Linked DNA regions of Homo sapiens: all the other regions are linked to region 1. The links come from fine-mapping of genetic effects on gene expression. A gene starts in region 1. Each other region holds a variant in brackets. All regions are shown on one strand. Distances are from middle to middle.

Region 1 (6,589 bases):
TCAGAGAAATGCAAACTCAAACTACAACAGCCTCCCACTGTACACTTATCTGACTGGCAAAACAGAAAGCTGGACTTTGCCAGACTAGCCGGGACAGAGGGGGACAGGCCTGGTCCAACACCCCAAGAAGCTCCTGGCCAACCAACGATGCCCGCGTCAGTTCCACTCCTGATCCCCCAGCCCAGGCACTCTCTCGGGCGTGTGATGCAGCAGAGGGCTTAGTCACAGGCAAGAGGCCCAGCAAGGCCCAAGTTAAGACGCACCCCCCCTCACCAAGTTGCAATCCAACGACAGTATACAGCTTGTGAGGACACAGGCATGGACATAAAGAGCACCGCAGTGGCTGCCTGTGGCGGTGGTGGAGTTCAGAGAGGAGACTAACGGCAGGACAGGAGGGGCAAGGGGATGACGGCATCTGCAAAGCAGCCGTGTGGGCGTCGCTGCCACCTCTTGCTCGTTGCACAACCTTTTCCTTGGATTTCTCCACCCAATAATTTCTCTTTTCTTGTCTAAGCTATTTCAAGTTTGGATTCTATTTCTCACAATTTAACAGCTTAGGAAAAAAAGAGGCTTTACTAACTCCCAGAATCCCACCCACTCCCTGGGGGCTGAACCCCATGACATGGGCAAAGCTAGGAACCAGCCTGGCACACCACTCATGAGTCCAAGCCCCCTGTGGAGCCCACAAGGGTCTGAGCGTTTGGCCTGCATACCCCAGCCTCTGATGGAGGCCTGGCTGGGTGGGTGCTGACTGATGATGCAGGGGAAGGGGCCCCAAGGTGCAGCCTCACCTAGTCCAGCCACACTGCTGTGGTTCTCCAGCATCACTTCCCTGTAGAGGGCCCTCTGGCCAGGGTCCAGACACTGCCACTCCTCCCGAGAGAAGTGCACAGCCACATCGCCAAATGTTACCACCTCCTGAAAGGACACACACCAGCACCCCAGGAATCCCTGGGTGCCAGCCCCCTTCTGGCGCTGCCTCATGACATGTCTCAGGCAGCTGCCCCATGGGGTTGGGCGAGACGCTCACCAGGACTCCTCTGCCTCTAATATTCTGGGGAGGGGCAGTCTCGGGGAGGAGGAAGGAACCCAGTCCATGGTGGTCATACAACCCTCCCCCCTCAAGAGCCTCAATTAGGCCCTGGTTTGGGCAGGGGTTTGCTCACTACCTTGGGGTTGGGGGCAAGGGGGCCTTCCTAAGCCCAGCAAGGGCCAAGGTAGGGTCTGGGCCCAGGGCCAGTGGGCAGAGCAGGAGGTGGGCCTTCACAGGACATGCGAGGGGAAGGAGGCAGTCAAGCTTCCTACCATGAGGCTCAGTGGTGGGTGGGCATCCACGTGTTCTGGCCGAGAGACCTGTTGGCAATTATGAAAGGATTAGAGGTCAAGGTGCCAGAAGCCCAACTTCCAGGCTAATCAAGGGGGTACTGTGCTCTCTGCTCCTTTACCTCCAGCCCCAGATTTCTCTAGCAGGGACATGGGGCTGGGCTGAAGCAGCCATGGCACTTGAGTGAAGGAGGCCCACTGAACTCTTGTTCCTCTTTAGAGTGTATGTGTGTGTGGCATGTGTGACTCACTCCACAAAGCCGTAAGAAGTGGATGCCACGTGCCAGGCACTGAGTAATGGGGATACAGTAGTGGACACGAGGACCCTGCCTTCACGAAGCAGTCTGGCGGAGGAAAGAGTTAAATAACCACACAAATAAGCACACTGCAACCACGACAGCGCTCAAGTACAGGGAACTATGAAAGCCACTTAGACTAGAACGTTCAGTGTAATGGGTCACTTCCCCAGGGACCTCGGCCAAGGTAATGGAGGTGGAGAGAGCACTCCAGGCAGCAGGAATAGCATGTGAAAGGGCCTGAAGCAAGAAGAAATGGGGTTGGATGAACCAGTGTGGGTAAATTCCCGGCAGCAAGGGAAGGCAGTGAGCGACTGGAGGTTGGGGAAGGCAGTGAGCGACTGGAGGTTGGAGAAGGCAGGAGCAAAAATGACAAACTGTAGGGAAGACAAGAGTGGACATGGAAACCCCTGCCCTCAAGTACATAAATTCCAGTCTCCAGCTCACCTGTCGCCAGGATGGAACCAGGCACAGGGATGTAATCTGATATAAATCGTTCACCTCAATTAAGCCAATGACCCCAGACCCTCTACCTGCCCAGGCATTCCCCCGGGAGGTCGGAATGGGAAAAAGAGTCTTCGTATGGCAGCTTCTGGCCCAGAAAGTGGTTTGTGGGTGGAAGCCCCAGGTCACCGGCACAGGTAGGCTGATCCCCCCACCTGGCTCCTGACAGTAGGAATGCCCGGAATAGCAACCAGAATTTAGAGAAGACAAACAGCCTACCCCACCCAAGGCACCGTTCCTTCCTCCACTGTCACTTATCCTAGGCCTTCCGGGGCAATAAATAGAAAGAGAAAAGGCTCTAGAAGGAGGTGATTTCGCAGGAGGAGTCAGGGCCCCGGGAGTAGACCCAGGCCTGAAGAAAAGGCCGCAGCTGGAGCTCGCCTTACTCAGGCCCCGGACACCGTGGCCGCCACGAGCGGGGTCTGCGGGGAGCTGCGAGACTCGGCCAAACGAAGCCCACCTCGCGCCGCCGCGGGGGAGGGTGGCTGGGCTCGACCACCTCCCACACCAGGCGCTCAAGGCCCCGCAAAGCCCCCGCGCTTTCCCGCCTGGAGGCCCGGGGGACGCGGGGACCCCAATGCCGAAGGCGGGAGGGCTAAGGAAGCGACCAGGGATCACTCGGACCGAGGGCAACCCGAGTCCGCGCCCGCCGCGCCGACTCACCCTCCCTGAGGACCACCCGAGGCTCGCAAACGCGCGACGCCGCCGGAAACGGGCCTTGGCCACCCGCGTCCGCCCCGCCCCGCAAACTTCCGGCCGCCCTGGGCCGCTCGGAGGCCCGGCCATCTCTGTGGTTCTCAGCCCCGCCTCCCAGGCTCCGGAGAAGGGGTGGAGTCAGAGCCGAGGAGGGGCGAGGCTGGGGCCCGAGGGACAAGAACCTGGGCGGGACCAGAAGCCCAGATAGGCGGGGCTGGCGCCTGGGGGCGGGGTACAGTCAGAGGCGGGCAGGGGGCGGAGCCGCGAGGGAGAGGAGGGCCCAGAGCCCGGAGTGGGCGGTGCCTGAGCAGGGGCGGGGCGGGGCCGGGGCCTGGAGCTGGGGACGCGGGCCGGGGCCGGGAGTTGCGGACTCGCTGGCGGGTGGGAGGAGCGGAGTCGGGGCGAGGCTGGCGGAGATCCAGGGGATCGCCCGGTTGGGCCCTGCGCACCCCGGATCACCAGCTTCGGGCGCTGGTTCCCACCGAGGCTGTTCAGGCGCCGCTCCCCCGCGTCCCTGCGACAGGAGGCGCCTGCTGGGCGCGCTATGGACCCCGCCTCGCGGAGACGCCTGGCTCGGGCCTTGTCCCCAGTGAGCGGCTGGAGCGGCCGCGGGGTCGCAGAGCCTCCGGGACCCCGAGGAAGGGCGCCCCTCGGAGTTGCCCGAGGCCGGGCCCGGCGTCCACTCGCCACTCGCCTCGCCCCTCCCCGGCCCCGCACCGCCCTCCACCCCGCCTCCTTCGGGTTCCTTCTGCGTCCGGCAGAGCCTGCGCGCCTCCCCCGGACGGCCACGGACTCGCAGCCTCGGCGAGGACGCTGCCTGCGTCCCGACTGCCTGGACCTCCCCGCGTGGCTCCCGGCGAAGCCCAGCAGCCGGAGGGTGCCAGGTCCGCCTGACGCGCCCCTCCCCACGGGAAGAACGGGGCGGGGGTCCAGGAGGGACGTAAGCCGGGCTCCCCCGGCGTGTTGATCCGAACCCGCGCGGGAAAACTTGCGCAAACCAAAGGAGGGAAGAGTCAGGCAGCCCCCAGCCCCCCAGGGAGGCCCAGGTGAAAAACAGACGCCGGCCTCGCCTCTCCCGGTGCGGATGATCCCGGCACTCCCACCCCCGCCCCTGCTGCCCCGAGTTCGGCTCCCTCAGCCCCACATCCTCTCTGGTCATCTAAGTGGACTGCAGCTGCTCAGGGAGCATGTCGCGAAGGATAGGGAAGGACAGGGGGTCTGCTTCCCCAGCCGCCCTCCAGACCCCCAGGGCTGGTAGGGGCCGGCAACCCTATGCCCCAACCTGGCCTGCTGCAGGTGAGGGGGGCACACCAGGGTAACACAGGAGCAGGAGGGGGAGAAAGCCTGGCTAGAGCATCCACCTCATAGGCACCTTCCTTGTGTCCAGGGTGCAGATGCCAGGGCTCTGAGGCCCTGAGGTCCTGTCTGGGGCGAGGGGGCTTCCTCCATCCACTGCATCCACTGCCCGGCTGAGTCTAGAGGCCACTGAGCAAGCAGACCCTCCAAAGCCAGGCACACTCAGGCCCTCACATGGTCACGGTGCTTATGCTCTGGGCCAGCCTGGATTGCTCATCCCTAGCTGAGATTGGGATTCACAGGGTCTTCCAGTTCCCCCTTTTCTTTCTCTACTGATTGAGAAACACAGAGTCCTTTGATTGCTCTGGGACCTGGCCATTGCGTGTTCCCTGCAGCCTTGAACCCAGTTCAATGGGGCCGGGCACATTCCCTGATAAAGCTGTTTAGGTTGCTTGAAAACACAATCAACCCTATTGCTAAACACGTAGAAACTGGCCCTGCCCTGAGTCCAATCCCTTAAACTCTCATCTAAGCTCCATAGCCAGAGTCCCTTGCTGCAAATGTACCTGGGTGGAGCATCCCTTGCCTCATCATCGATCCCAAGAAAGCTGAAGCTCCATGTGAAAATTTCCGGAAGAAATGCTCTGGACTGATCACCCTGGCGTTTAGAGCTTCTTTCCTTGGAATCCCAACCAATTCCATCGCGGGACTGTTTGGGGAAGTCTTTTGAGGCAACTCCCTTGCTGCCACTTTTGGGGCAACTCTAGCCTCCTCATATTTGGCCAGATAGAACAGTTCCAAGCTGTAAATGTTTCCAGGAAAAAATCTCAACTACAAAGACACTTTCAAGGTGCTGCATTTCCAACAGCACTCTCCGTATCCGAGTGGACAGCCCAGAGCAATGGTGCTTCCAATCCACAGAGCCCCTCCACAGGTCCCTTGCCATCTGCAGACACCCACATCTCAAGGTGAGTGCAGACACCCACATCTCAAGGTGAGTTCAAATGTATCCTGGATTTGTTTTTTGTTTGTTTGTTTGTTTTTTAAGGCAGAGTTTCACTTTTGTTGCCCAGGCTGGAGTGCAATGACAGTCTCAGCTCACTGCAACCTCTGCTCCCGGGTTCAAGCGATTCTCCTGCCTCGGCCTCCCGAGTAGCTGAGATTACAGGCACCTGCCACCACGCCTGGCTAATTTTTTGTATTTTTAGTAGAAACGGGGTTTCACCATGTTAGCCAGGCTGGTCTCGAACTCCTGACCTCAGGAGATCTGCCCACCTCGGTCGCCCAAATTGCTGGGATTACAAGCGTGAGCCACCGCGCCCGGACCCGTGGATTTGTTTTAACAGGTGTGGTAAGGCATGCACACGTGAGAATGACTGTTGTGAAGGAAGAAGTTATAGTCGTGGGTCCCTGGAAACTGGGCAGGGCACACAGGGCGACATGAGAAGGACCAGGGATGGCCAGGAGGCAGAAAGGGGGAGAGGACTGAGTTTGGCCGGAGCCTTTATTTTCTCTGGAAGGAGAGGGCAGGCAGGGTAGGTATGCAGAGTGAGCTCACGATTGGACTATTTGAACAATTGTGGCAGGCTCAGGGCTGTAGGGGTGGCCCCTTCTTGTCCGGTACCTGGCCCTCGGGTTACTTAGGGCAGGGGAAATATTGGCTTGGTGAGTGACCGTGTGATAAGGGAGGGAGATAGTTGTGGACTCTGGATTGGTTGGTTTGTGTCTCAAAGGTGCACTGGGGCTGGGCACAGTGGCTCACGCTTGTAATCCCAGCACTTTGGAGGCCGAGGAGGGCAGATCACCTGAGGTGAGACCAGCCTGGCCAACATGGTGAAACCTCGTCTCTATTAAAATACAAAAAAATTAGCAGGGTGTGGTGGTGCACGCATGTAGTCCCAGGTATTCAGGAGGCTGAGGTGGGAGAATCGCCTGCACGCAGGAGGCAGAGGCTACAGTGAGCCCAGATCACGCCACTGCACTCCAGCCTGGGTGACAGAGCGAGACTCCGTCTCAAAAAAAAAAAAAAAAGGTGCACTGGAAGGGGAGTGTTTGCCGTCTCTGGGAATTAGCTAGCCCTGGAGGGAGCAGCCTCTCCAGGATCAAGGCCCCAAATGCTTGGGTGACCCTGGAGAGCAGGGACGGAGCCCTGCAAACAAAAGGTTCTTCATTCTATGCACACACTCTCTGGTGCATGGTTTCAAAATGTCTTCGTGAAGTCGGGTCCAAGCCTCTATGCAGTGGAGAGAACACCTAGGGAGGAACAGTGCCTGACGGGTGAGCTGGGGAGGAGTGGGCACTGCCAGGAGGGCACTGGGCTGCTGTGGGATGGGGTGAGGTGAGCATCAGGTCGCGGTGCTGTAGGTGTTCCTGGAAGGCACCCTGGGCCCTCTGGACAGTCAGTCCTCACCCATGCCGCACCCATCAGAGTACAGAGATCGTGCCTCCCTGTAGTGATGATCTGTTTGGGATGG
Region 2 (6,589 bases), 68 kb before region 1:
TTGAGATGGAGTCTCACTCTGTTGCCCAGGCTGGAGTGCAATGGCGCGATCTTGGCTCACTGCAAACTCCACCTCCCAGGTTCAAGCAATTCTCATGCCTCAGCCTTGGGAGGAGCTGGAATTACAGGCACGTGCCACCACACCCAGCTAATTTTTGTATTTTTAGAAGAGACGGGGTTTCACCATGTCACCCAGGCTGGTCTTGAACTCCTGACTGTTGGGATCAGGCCCCCCCAAAATCTGGCTATAAACTGGCCCCAAAACCGGCCATAAACAAAATCTCTGTAGCACCGTGAAATGTTCATGATGGCCATAATGCCCACGCTGGAAGGTTGTGGTTGTGGGTTTACCGGAATGAGGGCAAGGAACACCTGGCCGGCCCAGGGTGGAAAACCCCTTAAAGGCATTCTTAAGCCACAAACAATAGCATGAGCGATCTGTGCCTTAAGGACATGCTCCTGCTACAGTTAACTAGCCCAACCTATTCCTTTAATTCGGCCCATCCCTTCGTTTCCCATAAGGGATACTTTTAGTTAAATTAATATCTATAGAAACAATGCTAATGACTGGCTTGCTGTTAATAAATACGTGGGTAAATCTCTGTTCAGGGCTCTCAGCTCTGAAGGCTGTGAGACCCCTGATTTCCCACTTCACACCTCTATATTTCTGTGTGTGTGTCTTTAATTCCTCTAGCGCCGCTGGGTTAGGGTCTCCCCGACCGAGCTGGTCTCAGCACCTGACCTCAGGTGATCCACCCACCTTGGCCTCCCAAAGTGCTGGGATTACAGGCATGAGCCACTGTGCCCGACCAGAAAGCTATCAATTTGGATACATATTTCTGATCATTAATTCTGGAAAGGTTGCAGGTTAGGGTTAGTTTAGGTTAGTTAGGGTTAGTTTAGATTAGGTCAAGTTTAGCAGTGTTTCGCCTTGTGCTCACAAGTGGCTCAGAAGCTGCCTCTCTTGAAAGTGCTTTCACCCTAGCGGGTAGGGGCTCCTTGGTGATGAAGAGGGAGCAGTGCTTGTTAGCAGAAAGTCCAGGGAGTGAGGATGATGAGGAGCAGGAGAAGGCAGTGGCCCTGGAGGAGATCCTGGAAGCTCATCCCAGATCAGGAGACTCCAAATGTGCCTGTCCCAGTGTGTGACCATGTGCAGGGTCCTCTGGAATGACAGGCACACTGCTTTGTCACATCAAGACAGTCAGGAATTCCAAAAAGAGTGATAGGAATGTCTCACTGCGATGTGGCTTTTGATCACCTAAAGAAAACTGGAAAGCCAGTTGCTGCTAATAACGTTGATCTATTGTTTTTGTTTTGGATTATTCCTTAGGGAAATTTTCAAGATTGAAATTCCTGAGTTTGAAAAATTAGCTCCTTATGCTGCCACCTTTGTAACCAGTGGGTGGGAGGGATCATTGCTCAGCCAGTGCCCTGAGTGGGTGTTCTTTATATTGCCCATTTGTTAGCTGTTGGCATGGCCTCAAGAGGGGGCTCCTCAAACTCCACTTCCAGTATTCTGTGGCGGTGATCTCCAGCCTGTCCCAGCCCCTGGCCCTGGAGCCTGGCATCTATAGAGGACTCGTCATTAGCCTGTCTTAATTTTTTAAAACTGTCCACATCATCCTCCTTCCCTGCCTGAACTGTGTTCTCATGGAGCAAAGCTTGGAGTTGGACGTCAGAATCCCGTGAAGTGTGGATGGAGTGTGTTGTTAAAAGCCAGTTTCTGGCACCCCCGATAGCTCTTACATTTTCCTGTCTTGAGTATGCAAGGTTTAGGTTGAGGTCCATGGTGTTTGCCTGGCCTGGTATCCTGTTACAGGCTCGTTCCAGGAAACTGAAACCTTTATCTGCCATAGTGTAAGTAAGGAAAAAATTTAAACTAGTTAATACCACTTTTAAAATGTATTTTGTTCATATTTTTTTTTAATTTTTATTTATTTATTTATTTATTTTGAGACAGGGATTCATTCTGTTGCCCAGGGTGGAGTGTAGTGGTGCAGTTACAGCTTACTGCAGCCTTGACCTCCTGGGCTCAAGCAATCTTCCCATCTCAGCCTCCAGAGTACCTAGGTCTACAAACCAGCTAATTTTTTAAATTTTTTTATAGAGACGGGGTCTCACTATATTGTCCAGGGTGTTCTTGAACTCCTGAACTCAAGCAATTCTCCCACCTTGGCCTCCCAAAGTACTGGGATTATAGGTGTGAGTCACCATGCCCAGCCATTTTTGTTCATTTATTACCAGAATACAATCAGACTTTGTGATAGGATTTTTTTTTTTTTTTTTTTTTTGAGACAGAGTCTTGCTCTGTTATGCAGGCTGGAGTGCAGTGGCACAATCTTGGCTCACTGCAACCTCTGTCTCCCAGGTTCAAGCTATTTTCTTGCCTCAGCCTCCTGAGTAGCTGGGATTACAGGTGCCTGCCACCATGCCTGACTAACTTTTTGTATTTTTAGTAGAGACGGGGTTTCACTATGTTGGCCAGGCTGGTCTCGAACTCCTGACCTTTTGATCCGCCCGCCTCGGCCTCCCAAAGTGCTGGGATTACAGGTATGAGCCACTGCGCCTGGCCGATTTTTTTTTTAATTAGCAATATGTGATGGTCATCTTTCAATAGAGACCTGATACTGCATTTTGTGTGATGCTTTTCTAAGACTCACCCCAGGTGGCAGTCTTTCCCTTTCACTTCTCCTTGCCACACACTTGTTGACAGCCTGGTATTGTCCTTTGGAGTATTTCCTCTGTGTGTTAATCAAATAGATAATAACACCTTATCCAGCAGCATCCTCCTCTGAGCCAAGCCTGTTCTTAGCGCTCTCCTCTCACCAACCACATGATCTCCAGGCCTTCAGAGGAGTGTGTCATCTGGATTTATAGGTGGGGCCTCAATGCAGCTGGCCCAAGTGAGGCAGGTGAACCAGTCCCAGGTCCTTGTGACACACATACCCTTCATGGGCTCGGGGTCATAGTTTACAAAATGAGATTTTCCCCTGCATGCTGGCCCCATGCTGCATTTTCACTCACCCATCTGGTGACCTGACACAACATACATCTTTCTCTTTAGCAGGTGTGTAACTTGTATGTGGAAGGACCAACGTAGCATTTGCCTCAGCAACATCCTTGAATCTGCACCCTCACCCACATCCATTCTTATCAGGTACCCACTATCCAAGGGCCAGTCTGATTTGCCTAAATACTGCTAGGTCGCCTTCTTAAGAGTATGAGAAACTCCACTTTCCCATGCCTGCCAGTTTAAAGTGTTGACTCCGTACTTGGCTATTACAGATGGCATAAAGTGTGAGCTCATTCCTCTTCATTCATTTATTCAACAAACAGGCCGGGTGTGGTGTTCTCAGGCCTGTAATCTTGACACTTTCGGAGGCCAAGGAGGGAGGATCCCTTGAGCCTAGGAGTTCAAGACCAGTCTGGGCAACACAGCAAGACCTCGTCTCTACCAAAAAAAAAAAATTAAGAAATTATCCAGGCATGGTGGTGCAACCTGTATTCCTAGCTACTTGGGATGCTGAAGTGGGAGGATCACCTGAGCCCAGGAGTTGGAGGCTGCATTGAGCTGTGATTGAGCCACTGTACTCCAGCCTGGACTACAAAGTGAGACCCCGTCTCTAAGAAATTAATTAAAAGTTTAAAAAAGTACATTGCCTGGCAATTTGTAATCATTAGCCTAGAAGTAATTAAAAAAAAAAAAAAAAGGTCGACCACTGATTACTCTGTTGGGCCTGCTTCTTGGTCTGCTGGTGCAGGAGAAAGGGATAGGATGAGAGCTGGGTGAGGCCAGGGCTGCTGCGGTGGGTGGGGCAGAGGTCTCTAAGAGTTGGATGGGGAGCACAGGCCAAGGGATAAAGGGCTGCAGGGCTCTGAGGAAAATCACAAAGTTTGGGGCA[T/G]GCCCATAGGAGCCAGTGGGGTCCTGGGAGGACCTTGGAGCAGAGGACAGTCACTGTGTTCTCACAGGAAGGTAGATGGAGGGGCTGGGCAGACAGACGGTGCTGGGAGTCTGTCTGCCCAGATGGGAGCTGCCGAACATCTAGGGGTGGTTGTCATGGGGCAGGGAGGGCGAGATGGGCAACATGGTCAGGTTCTGGATGTGCTTGGAAGGTGAATAGAAGTGTGGGAGTGAAGAAGGAAGGAGGCTGATGCACAGGCTCACAGACCAAGCTGGGGGTAGAAATGATGGTAGAGGGGGTGCTTGGTTTGGGATGTTAAATGTCTGAGATGCTATGAGACACCCATATTGAAAGGTTGAGTCAGAGGGAAGGGGGATCACGAGCTCAAGTGTACCAAAAGAGCTACTGGGCTCAACTGACTTTTCAGACTCACAGGACAACCATGCCTAGCAGCAGCTTCTCGGAAAAGCTGGCCAGCATCATCCAGCAGCCATCCAGGGAGTACTGAGGTGCATAAACACAAGATGCAGGTAGGAGGAGGAGTTAGCCTAGTCGAAAGCCTCGTGGTCATACAAGCCAGCACCTCCTGTGTCAAGAGAACTGGCTGCAAGACCTGCTAGGGAGGCCCTGAATGTACTTCCTGTGGTTGTTCATCATTGAGTCACAGCCCAGGTGTGATTGGTCCGTAGAGAGAATGACCATCCACCTCTGCCAGGTTTCCAGGGGACCAGAGCTGTGCATTCACCCAAGGTCAAATTCGCATGCAGGGCTAGGCGCAGTGACTCAAGCCTGTAATTCCAGCACTCTAGGAGGCCAAGAGGGGCATATCACTTGAGCTCAGGGGTTCGAGACCAGCCTGGGCAACATGGTGAAACCCCGTACCTACAAAAAGTACAAAAATTAGCCGGGCATGGAGGCAGGTGTCTGTAGTCCCAGCTACTCAGGAGGCTAAGGTAGGAGGATCGCTTGAGCCTGGGAGACGGAGGTTGCAGTGAGCCTAGATCATGCCACTGCACTCCAGCCTGGGTGACAGAGCGAGATTCTGTTTCAAAATAAAGAAATGGCAGATCTGTGCGCTGGTGGGTGACCCATGGAAAGGGTCAGGGTGTGGCAGGAGAGAAGGCACTTCTGCCCTTGAGGGTAGGCAGATGTCAGACAGGGGGACCAGGAGCACATGAGGCCACTGTTAATGCTCACACTTGGTCTTCATCTTAATCCAAAATTGGTTATTGTTGGGCTGGGCGTGGTGGCTCATGCCTGTAATCCCAGCACTTTGGGAGGCCAAGGCGGGTGGATCACCTGAGGTCGGGAGTTCGAGACCAGCCTGACCAAGATGGTGAAAACCCATCTCTACTAAAAATATTTAAAAAATTAGCCGAGCGTGCTGGTGGGTGCTTGTAATCCCAGCTACTCGGGAGGCTGAGGCAGGAGAATTGCTTGAACCTGGGAGGCAGGGGTTGCGGTGAGCCAAGATCACCCCATTGCATCCCAGCCTGGGTGACAGAGCAAGACTTCGTCTCAAAAAAAAAAAAAAATTGGTGGCTGGACACGGTGGCTCACGCCTGTAATCCCAGCACTTTGGGAGGCCAAGGCGGGCGGATCACCTGAGGTCGGGAGTTCAAGACCAGCCTGACCAACATGGAGAAACCCTGTCCCTACTAAAAATACAAAAAAAATTAGCTGGGCATGGTGGCGCATGCCTGTAATCCCAGCTACTTGGGAGGCTGAGACAGGAGAATCACTTGAACCCAGGAGGTGGAGGTTGCGGTGAGCCGAGATCTCGCCGTTGCATTCCAGCCTGGGCAACAAGAGTGAAACTCTGTCTCAAAAAAAAAAACAAACAAAAAAATTGGTTATTGATGTATCCCATCTGGGTACACACAAGTTACTAAAGGAACCACTGATTTCCTGCTGAACTAAAATGTAACATTTTTGTTATCTTCCAATTTCCCACATACCTGTCTGGCTTCATCTGTTCCTCTGTCAACAACTTGTTGGTTTAATTGCAGCGGCTTCCTACCCACCCTTGGCTCTGATTCCTGGCAAGGCAGTCCCCACCCTCTGTTCTTTCCAGTTAAATTCTTGGCTATTCTCTAGCATCCATTCTTCTTATGAATTCTCAAGTAGTTGTAGTCATTCCTTTAAAAGACTTCTGTTGGAATTCTAATTAGAGTTGCATTGCGCTAACACAGAAGTGTGCTCACACACACATTTGGAGGGAATGGGCATTTTTGGAGAACAGCAGCACGGGGGAGGGTTGAAAGTCAGTCTCTCTCCAACTGTGTTTCCCTGTCCTGTTCTTCAGAGGCAGGCAGTTAGTTTATTGTGTATCTTCCTGAAAGTTGTCTGTGCAAATATATACATGTATCTGATGTGTGTTTTTTTTGTTTTGTTTTGAGACAGAGTCTCAGCTGAGATGATCTCAGCTCACTGCAACCTCCACATCCTGGGTTCAAGTGATTCTCCTGCCTTAGCCTCCTGAGTAGTTGGGATTACAGGCACCCGCCACCACACCCAGCTGATTTTTGTTTTTGTTTTTGTTTTGAGATGGAGTTTTGCTCTTGGTTGCCCAGGCTGGAGTGCAATGGCATGATCTCGGCTCATCGCATCCTCCACCTCCTGAGTTCAAGCAATTCTCTTGCCTCAGCCTCCTGAGTAGCTGGGACTACAGGCGTGCACCACCACACC
Region 3 (6,589 bases), 81 kb before region 1:
AAAACCACTATGATGAGCAGTGGTTGACTCCTGCATACCAAAGGGTCCTGCAGCAAGGTCTTTATACAATGCCTGTAGCATAGATAACCCCTCATAAGGATGCTTATCTAACCTCCCCATTGGTCACAAGTTTTGCAGGAAAGTCTGAGACATAACCAGCTGCACATGTTTTACCAAAAAAGCTTGCTACTTTTTGGAGGGCAGGTGCAGGGATCCATCATCTCAAAGCTGCCTAAGACATTGCTTCTGTTTCTAAGTCCCTGTTAAATGTTTTCTTCTGGGAAACTGGACTTATCAGCCTCTTTCTTTGACCTCTCATCTCTCTCTGCCTTTGGCGGTAGATTTGCATAGACCTGCTCCCTGCAAAACATACTTCTCACATGGCATAATGAGCAATCTGGGGCCATTTTTTGATGTTTGATAATTGTCAGTGTTTAAGTCTCACCCTCCCTCTTTCCTTTGTGCTCACATCTGGGGAAACTGGTAAGAAAGCCTGGGTGCTCCCTCTGGTGACACTGGAAGATTCGAACCACACAAGCCCCTGCCTGTATGTGGGAACCTCCCATCAGTCCCACCCCCAACCACAATAAAAACCCAGTCCAGCCTCCTTTCCTTGCTGTCTCAAGCCATTTTGGACCTGCCTGGGAAGCCTCGCTGCTGCCCTCAATTATGTATAAAATAAACCTTTTCACACCCCCCTTGGGGTGTATGTTTTTGTGTGACATCATCAGTCTCAAAATTGTGGGTGGGTCATCTGAGTCTGCAGGTAACCACACAGTCGGCACTGTCAGCAGATGTCTGGGTGATGACCACCCCACCCAGTGGTATGGCTTCCATTGCCTCAGCATATTCATTCACCAGCTCTCTGCTGGCTGGCCAGCATGTGCTCTGAGCTGTACTGCTTTGTGTGTCATTGTTGAGTCCAACAGAACCCTCCAAAAGAAGCTCCAGGGCCTGGGGGGAAAATAGGGCCTTTACTGGGCAAATTTCAGCTGGACCACTCGCCTAAGGCTTGAGGGTCAAGAACCACAGTCACCACCAGCCCCTGTTGTGTGTGGGGAGGGGTGGGGAGCACCGTGGCTCCCAGAGACCCCATGTGGCTTCTGTGTGCAGAGTTTTCTCTGCCCATGGGCTAAGGTCTGAGCAGTTCCAAATGTCAGAACATCAACTGTGGAGACTGCTCCCCTATGGAAATTTGATATAAGCAAATGATGGGTTAGGGATAAATGTCATATGTGGGTATTGGAATAACCAGCTAGCCATTTGGAAGATAAAATTAGATCCATTCTCCACACCATGTAGCAGAATAAACTGCAAATGGAACAGAGAGGTAAATGTAAAGAAACAAAACCAAACAAGTACTAGGTGAAAACATGAATAAATTATTCTAGAAACTGAGAGGGAAATTTTTACTACTACTAAAAATCAAGAAACAAAAGAGAAAATATCGATAAATTTAACCACATGAAATTTTTTTACATGACCAAAACCAACATAAAGTAAAAAAATGACAAACTGAGAAAAATATTTATAACATATTACAGCTAGCACATATAAAATAATATACAAAAGATTATTTTAAGATTAGACTTGTCAGGCCGGGGTGGTTCCTACCTGTAATCCCAGCACTTTGGGAGGCCAAAGTAGCAGGACCACTTGAGCCTAGGAGTTCAAGACCAGCCTGGGCCACATAGGGAAACCCTGTCTCCACACAAAATTTTTTTTTAATTAGCCTGGTGCGGTGGCACACTCCTGTGATCCCAACAACTTTGGAGGCTGAGGCAGGAAGATTGCTTGAGTCCAGGAGGTTAAGGATACAGTGAGCCATGATGGCACCACTGCACTCCAGCCTGGACAACAGAGCAAAACCCTGTCTAAAAAAGATTAGGGTATCATTTTCAACAAATGTTGAAACTACTGAGTAACAATATACCAACGAATGAACTCCAGTCCTTACCTCATACAATGTATAAAAATCGACTCAAAATGTATGATCAACTAAATGTATAAAATTTAGAAGAAGAAAACATAGGAGTTCGGGCACCGTGGTTCACGCCTGTAATCCCAGCACTTTGGGAGGCCGAGGCAGGTAGATCACAAGGTCAGGAGTTGAAGGCCAGCCTGACCAACATGGTGAAACCCCATCTCTACTAAAAATTAGCCAGGTGTGGTGGCACGCGCCTGTAGTCCCAGCTACTCAGAGGCTGAGGCAGGAGAATGGCTTGAACCCAGGAGGCACAGGTTGCAGTAAGCCAAGATCGCGCCGTTGCACTCCAGCCTGGGCAACAGTGCAAGACTCTGTCTAAAATAAAAAAAAAAGAAAGAAAGAAAAAAGAAAAAAAGGAAAAAAAAATAGGAGAAAACCTTACAGATCTTGACTTGGCAAGAATTAATTAATTTTATTATTATTAGTTTTTGTTTTATTGAGTGCTTGTGTGCTAAACACTAAGTGCCGGGGCTACATCAGTGAACAAGCAGCCTCCACCTCCAGGTTCAAGGGGTTCTCCTGCCTCAGCCTCCCGAGTAGCTGAGATTACAGGTATCCACCACCATGCCCAGCTACTTTTTGTGTTTTTAGTAGAGATGGGGTTTCGCCATGTTGGCCAGGCTGGTCTTGAACTCTTGACCTCAAGTGATCTTTCCGCCTTGGCCTCCCAAAGTGCTGGGATAACAGGCATTGGCCACCGCACCCAGGCTATTATTATTTTTTGAGACAGGGTCTCATTCTGTCACTCAGACTGGAGTGCAGTGGTGTGATCATGGCTCACTGCAACCTTGACTTCCTGGGTTCACTCCCACCTCAACCTCCCAAATAGCTGGGACTACCCGTATGTGCCACTATGCCCAGCTAACTTTTGTATTTTTTGTGGCCACGTTCCTCAGGCTGGTCTTGAACTCCTGGGCTTAAGCGATCTGCCCACCTTGGCCTCACAAAGGGCTGAGATGACAGGTGTGAGCCACTGTGCCCACCCAAGAATTTACTAAATAAGAAACAAAAAGTATGAACTTTGAAGGAAAGAAATCCATTAATTCCTTTATCAAAATTTAAAACTTTTGCTCCTCAAAATGAAATGAAATGAAAAGGTACAACTGTGAGAAAGTATTTGCAAAACATATATTTGCAACATAGGACCAGTATCCAATCCTATAAAGAACTCATAATAAGACAAATGACTATTTAAAATGGGCAAAAAATGTAAACAGCTGCTTCACCAAAGAATATATGTACACAGCAAACAAGCACATGAAAAGACCCTCAGCAACATTAAGCATTAAAGAAATGCAAATAAAAACCACAATGAGGCTGGGCACAGTGGTTCATGCCTGTAATCCCAGAACTTTGGGAGGCCAAGACAGATGGATCACTTGAAGTCAGGAGCCCGACACCAGCCTGGACAACACGGCAAAACCCTGTCTCTACTGAAAATACAAAACTTAGCCGGGCGTGGTGGTGCGCACCTGTAATCCCAGTTAGTT[G/A]GGGGGTGAGGCAGGAGAATCACTTGAACCCGGGAGGCAGAGGTTGCAGTGAGCCGAGATCACGCCAAGGCACTCCAGCCTGGGTGGCAGAGTGAGACCCCATCTCAAAAAAAGAAAAACACAATAAGATGCCACTGTACTTCCACCAGCATGGCTAATTTTGTACAAATTGACAATACCAAGGGTAGGCAAGTATATGGAGCAACTGGAGCTGCCACATACTGCTCGAGGGGGGGTCAAGTGGTGAAAAACACTTTAGAAAGAGGTTGACAGTTTCTTTAAAACAAAAGCAGGCCAGGCGCAGTGGCTCACACCTGTAATCCCAGCACTTTGTGGGGAAGAGGCAGGTGGATCACTTGAGGTCAGGAGTTCGAGACCAGCCTGGCCAACATGGTGAAACCCCATCTCTACTGAAACTACAAAAATTAGCCAGGCGTGGTGGTGCCTGCCTGTAATCCCAGCTACTCAGTTGGCTAAGGCAGAAGAATTGCTTGAACCCAGGAGGCAGATGTTGCAATGAGCCTGGATCACGCCACTGCACTCCTGCCTGGACAACAGAGTGAGAGTCCATCTCAAAGAAGACAGAGAGAAAAAAAAGAGAGAGGGAGGGAGGGAAAAAGAAAGAAAGAAAAAGGAAAGAAGAAAAAGAGAAAAAAGGAAGCATAGATACACACAAAAACTTACATACAAATGTCTGTAGCTAAAAAATGGAAACAACCCATGTCCAATATCTGGTGAATGGATTAAAAAGTTATCGTACATACATACAATGGAGTATTGCCCAACAATTTAAAGGAACAAACTATTGATATATGCAGCAAATGGCTAAATCTCGAAATAACTATGCTGAGTGAAAGAGGCCGGACCCACCCATACTCCAAAATAATGTATCTTCTATGATTATATAATATCATACAAACTACAAACTGAGTTAGAGTGACAGAAAGCAGACCCAGGGATGGGGGCGTTTGGGGCTGATGGACCTGTTTAGTATCTTAATTGTGGGGATAGTTTCACAGGCATCTACTTAGGTCAACATTTTCATCAAACTAAAAGTATGTTCAATTTATTGTCTGTGCAATTTATACCTCAATAAAGCAACAAAAATACAGCAGTAAGGACATAGCAGTCAAATATATTTTTAAAAATCAATTTATTATCAGCCTTATAGTATATTTCCCCATAAGAAATGTTTATTTCTCTTCTCTGAACAGAGTATTTCTAAATATCCTCAGTTGTACATATTAATTAGGTTGAGGATAAACTGAATGATAGTTAATGAAATCAGATCTGAGGATATGAATTTTAAATTGATTTTTAAGTTTACTCTTTATCACTTATCTGGTGTCAAATTGATTACCTGTAAGTTCTCACATTGCATCACAAAAACACCATCAGGGATTTTTGGCAATTTTTTTTTTTTGAGACGGAGTCTCGCTCTGTCACCCAGGCTGCAGTGCAGTGGCGCGATCTTGGCTCACTGCAAGATCCGCCTCCTGGGTTCACACCGTTCTCCTGCCTCAGCCTCCCAAGTAGCTGGGACTACAGGTGCCTGCCACCACGCCTGGCTAATTTTTTGTATTTTTTTTTTAGTAGAGATTGGGTTTCACCGTGTTAGCCAGGATGGTCTCGATCTCCTGACCTCGTGATCCGCCCACCTCAGCCTCCCAAAGTGCTGGGATTACAGGCATGAGCCACCGTGCCCAGCCTGATTTTTGGCAATTTTTAATGTTAAACATGGCACTTTACCCAGCTGAAAAAACACATTTTCCTAATCACCCTTGGAGCTAGAATTGGTCTTGTAACACACTTTAGACCAAAAATACATAAGTAAAAGTCACAGGGTGCAGTTCTGAAAGACATGGGGTTGGCTGAGCATACATTTGATTTTGTCTTTTGTTTTTTCTCTTTCTGCCTGGAATCTGGATGTGATTCTAGTGATGAAGCAGTCTTCTTGCAATCATGAGGCAAAAAAAAAAAAAAAAAATGAAAGCTGCTTATTAAGATGGCCAATGGAAAATAAAGGGGGAGCCTAGAGGCCTGGTGGCATTGTGTGGCCTTGGATGGGCTCCGTATTCCTAGAAAAATTGACTCATAAAAAAAACCACCTATTTGGTTCAGCCACTGTAATCAGCTTTCTGTTGTACAGTCAATGCCAATCTTAAGTGAGATAGTAACATAATATGTTAAATTGGTTAAAAAAAATGTGAACACAACCTCAAAAGAATAGTTTCCAGCATAGCACTTCTGGTCTCTCTCTCTCTTTCCATACACACACACACACACACACACACACACACACACACGTTTGTATGGTTTCTGGCTCATAACTGCCATAGCCCTTGTTACACTCGTTTGTTATAACATTGGATGCATTAGGCTTCAGAGAACAAAATCTCTCTGACCTCCTGCCCGCAGGACCCTAATCTTCCCCTACCTCTCTGATTGTGGGTCATAAGACCATCATTCCAGAGAGGGTCCCACCTCATAGCCTGGTGGAAAAAATATCGATGTCATGAAGCTTCCATGAAAACCCAAGAGGACTGGGTTTGTAGAGCTTCTGGAGAGCCGAACACATGGAAGTTCCTGGAGGGCTGTGTGCCCTGCAAGGGCACAGAGGCTCTGCACCCCTCTCCCCATGCCTTGCCCTACACATCTCTTTATTTGTATCCTCTGTAATATCCTTCATTATAAACTGGCAAACATAAGTAAGGGTTTCCCTGAGTTCCGTGAGCTGTTCTAGCAAATCAAACCCAAAGAGGGAGTCATGGAAACCCCAACTTGAAGGAAGTCAATCAGTTCTGGAGGCCCGGGCTATGACTCACGTCGGGGACTGGGGAGTCGTGAACTGACTTGAAGGAAGTCAATCAGTTCTGGAGGCCCAGGCTGTGACTCCTGTCGGGGATTGGGGAGTCGGGAACTGAGCCCTCATCCTGTGGGATCCGGCACTATCTCCAGGTAGACAGTGAAGGAGCTGAACTGGAGGACACCCAGTAGAATTGATGGCTTGCTGATGAGGAGAAATCCCCATATATTTTGGGGCTACATAAGTCTTCTGTGTTGTTAGTATGAGAGCAGAGGAAAAATAGGGTTTGAGAGTTTTTCTGAAACA

Which allele goes with the higher level. Alleles are on the strand shown, and positions count from the first base shown. SD is a standard deviation of normalised expression in the study named. Not every link is listed here.
For the expression in cerebellar hemisphere of the gene that starts at base 2,836 in region 1, A is the high allele of the variant in region 3 and G is the other (small effect, 0.20 SD a copy in GTEx).

What was found. PIP is the estimated chance that this variant, and not a neighbour inherited with it, causes the effect. A credible set is the group of variants that fine-mapping cannot tell apart.
Region 2: its variant is the best candidate, but not a certain one, in a credible set for the expression of ZNF7 in whole blood (TOPMed, PIP 0.71).
Region 3: its variant is the best candidate, but not a certain one, in a credible set for the expression of ZNF7 in cerebellar hemisphere (GTEx, PIP 0.76).

Annotation. Positions count from the first base shown.
Region 1 is chr8:144,823,807-144,830,395 of GRCh38, reverse strand. It overlaps ZNF7 (zinc finger protein 7), which reads right to left and starts at 2,836. Exons shown (of 5, transcript NM_003416.4): 1 at 2,787-2,836; 2 at 1,306-1,353; 3 at 792-918. The coding sequence starts at 1,308. It overlaps LOC100130027 (a long non-coding RNA gene), which reads left to right and starts at 3,356. Exons shown (of 5, transcript NR_147501.1): 1 at 3,356-5,083. RefSeq lists enhancers at 1,607-2,132, 2,133-2,658, 2,659-3,184 and a silencer at 2,516-3,645.
Region 2 is chr8:144,891,710-144,898,298 of GRCh38, reverse strand. The region is part of intron 1 of ZNF250 (zinc finger protein 250); the gene reads left to right. Among named protein-coding and RNA genes, the nearest start is that of ZNF250, 6.4 kb to the left of the region's middle. The variant T/G (reference allele first, on the strand shown) is at 3,902.
Region 3 is chr8:144,904,399-144,910,987 of GRCh38, reverse strand. No RefSeq gene overlaps it. Among named protein-coding and RNA genes, the nearest start is that of ZNF250, 6.2 kb to the right of the region's middle. The variant G/A (reference allele first, on the strand shown) is at 3,478.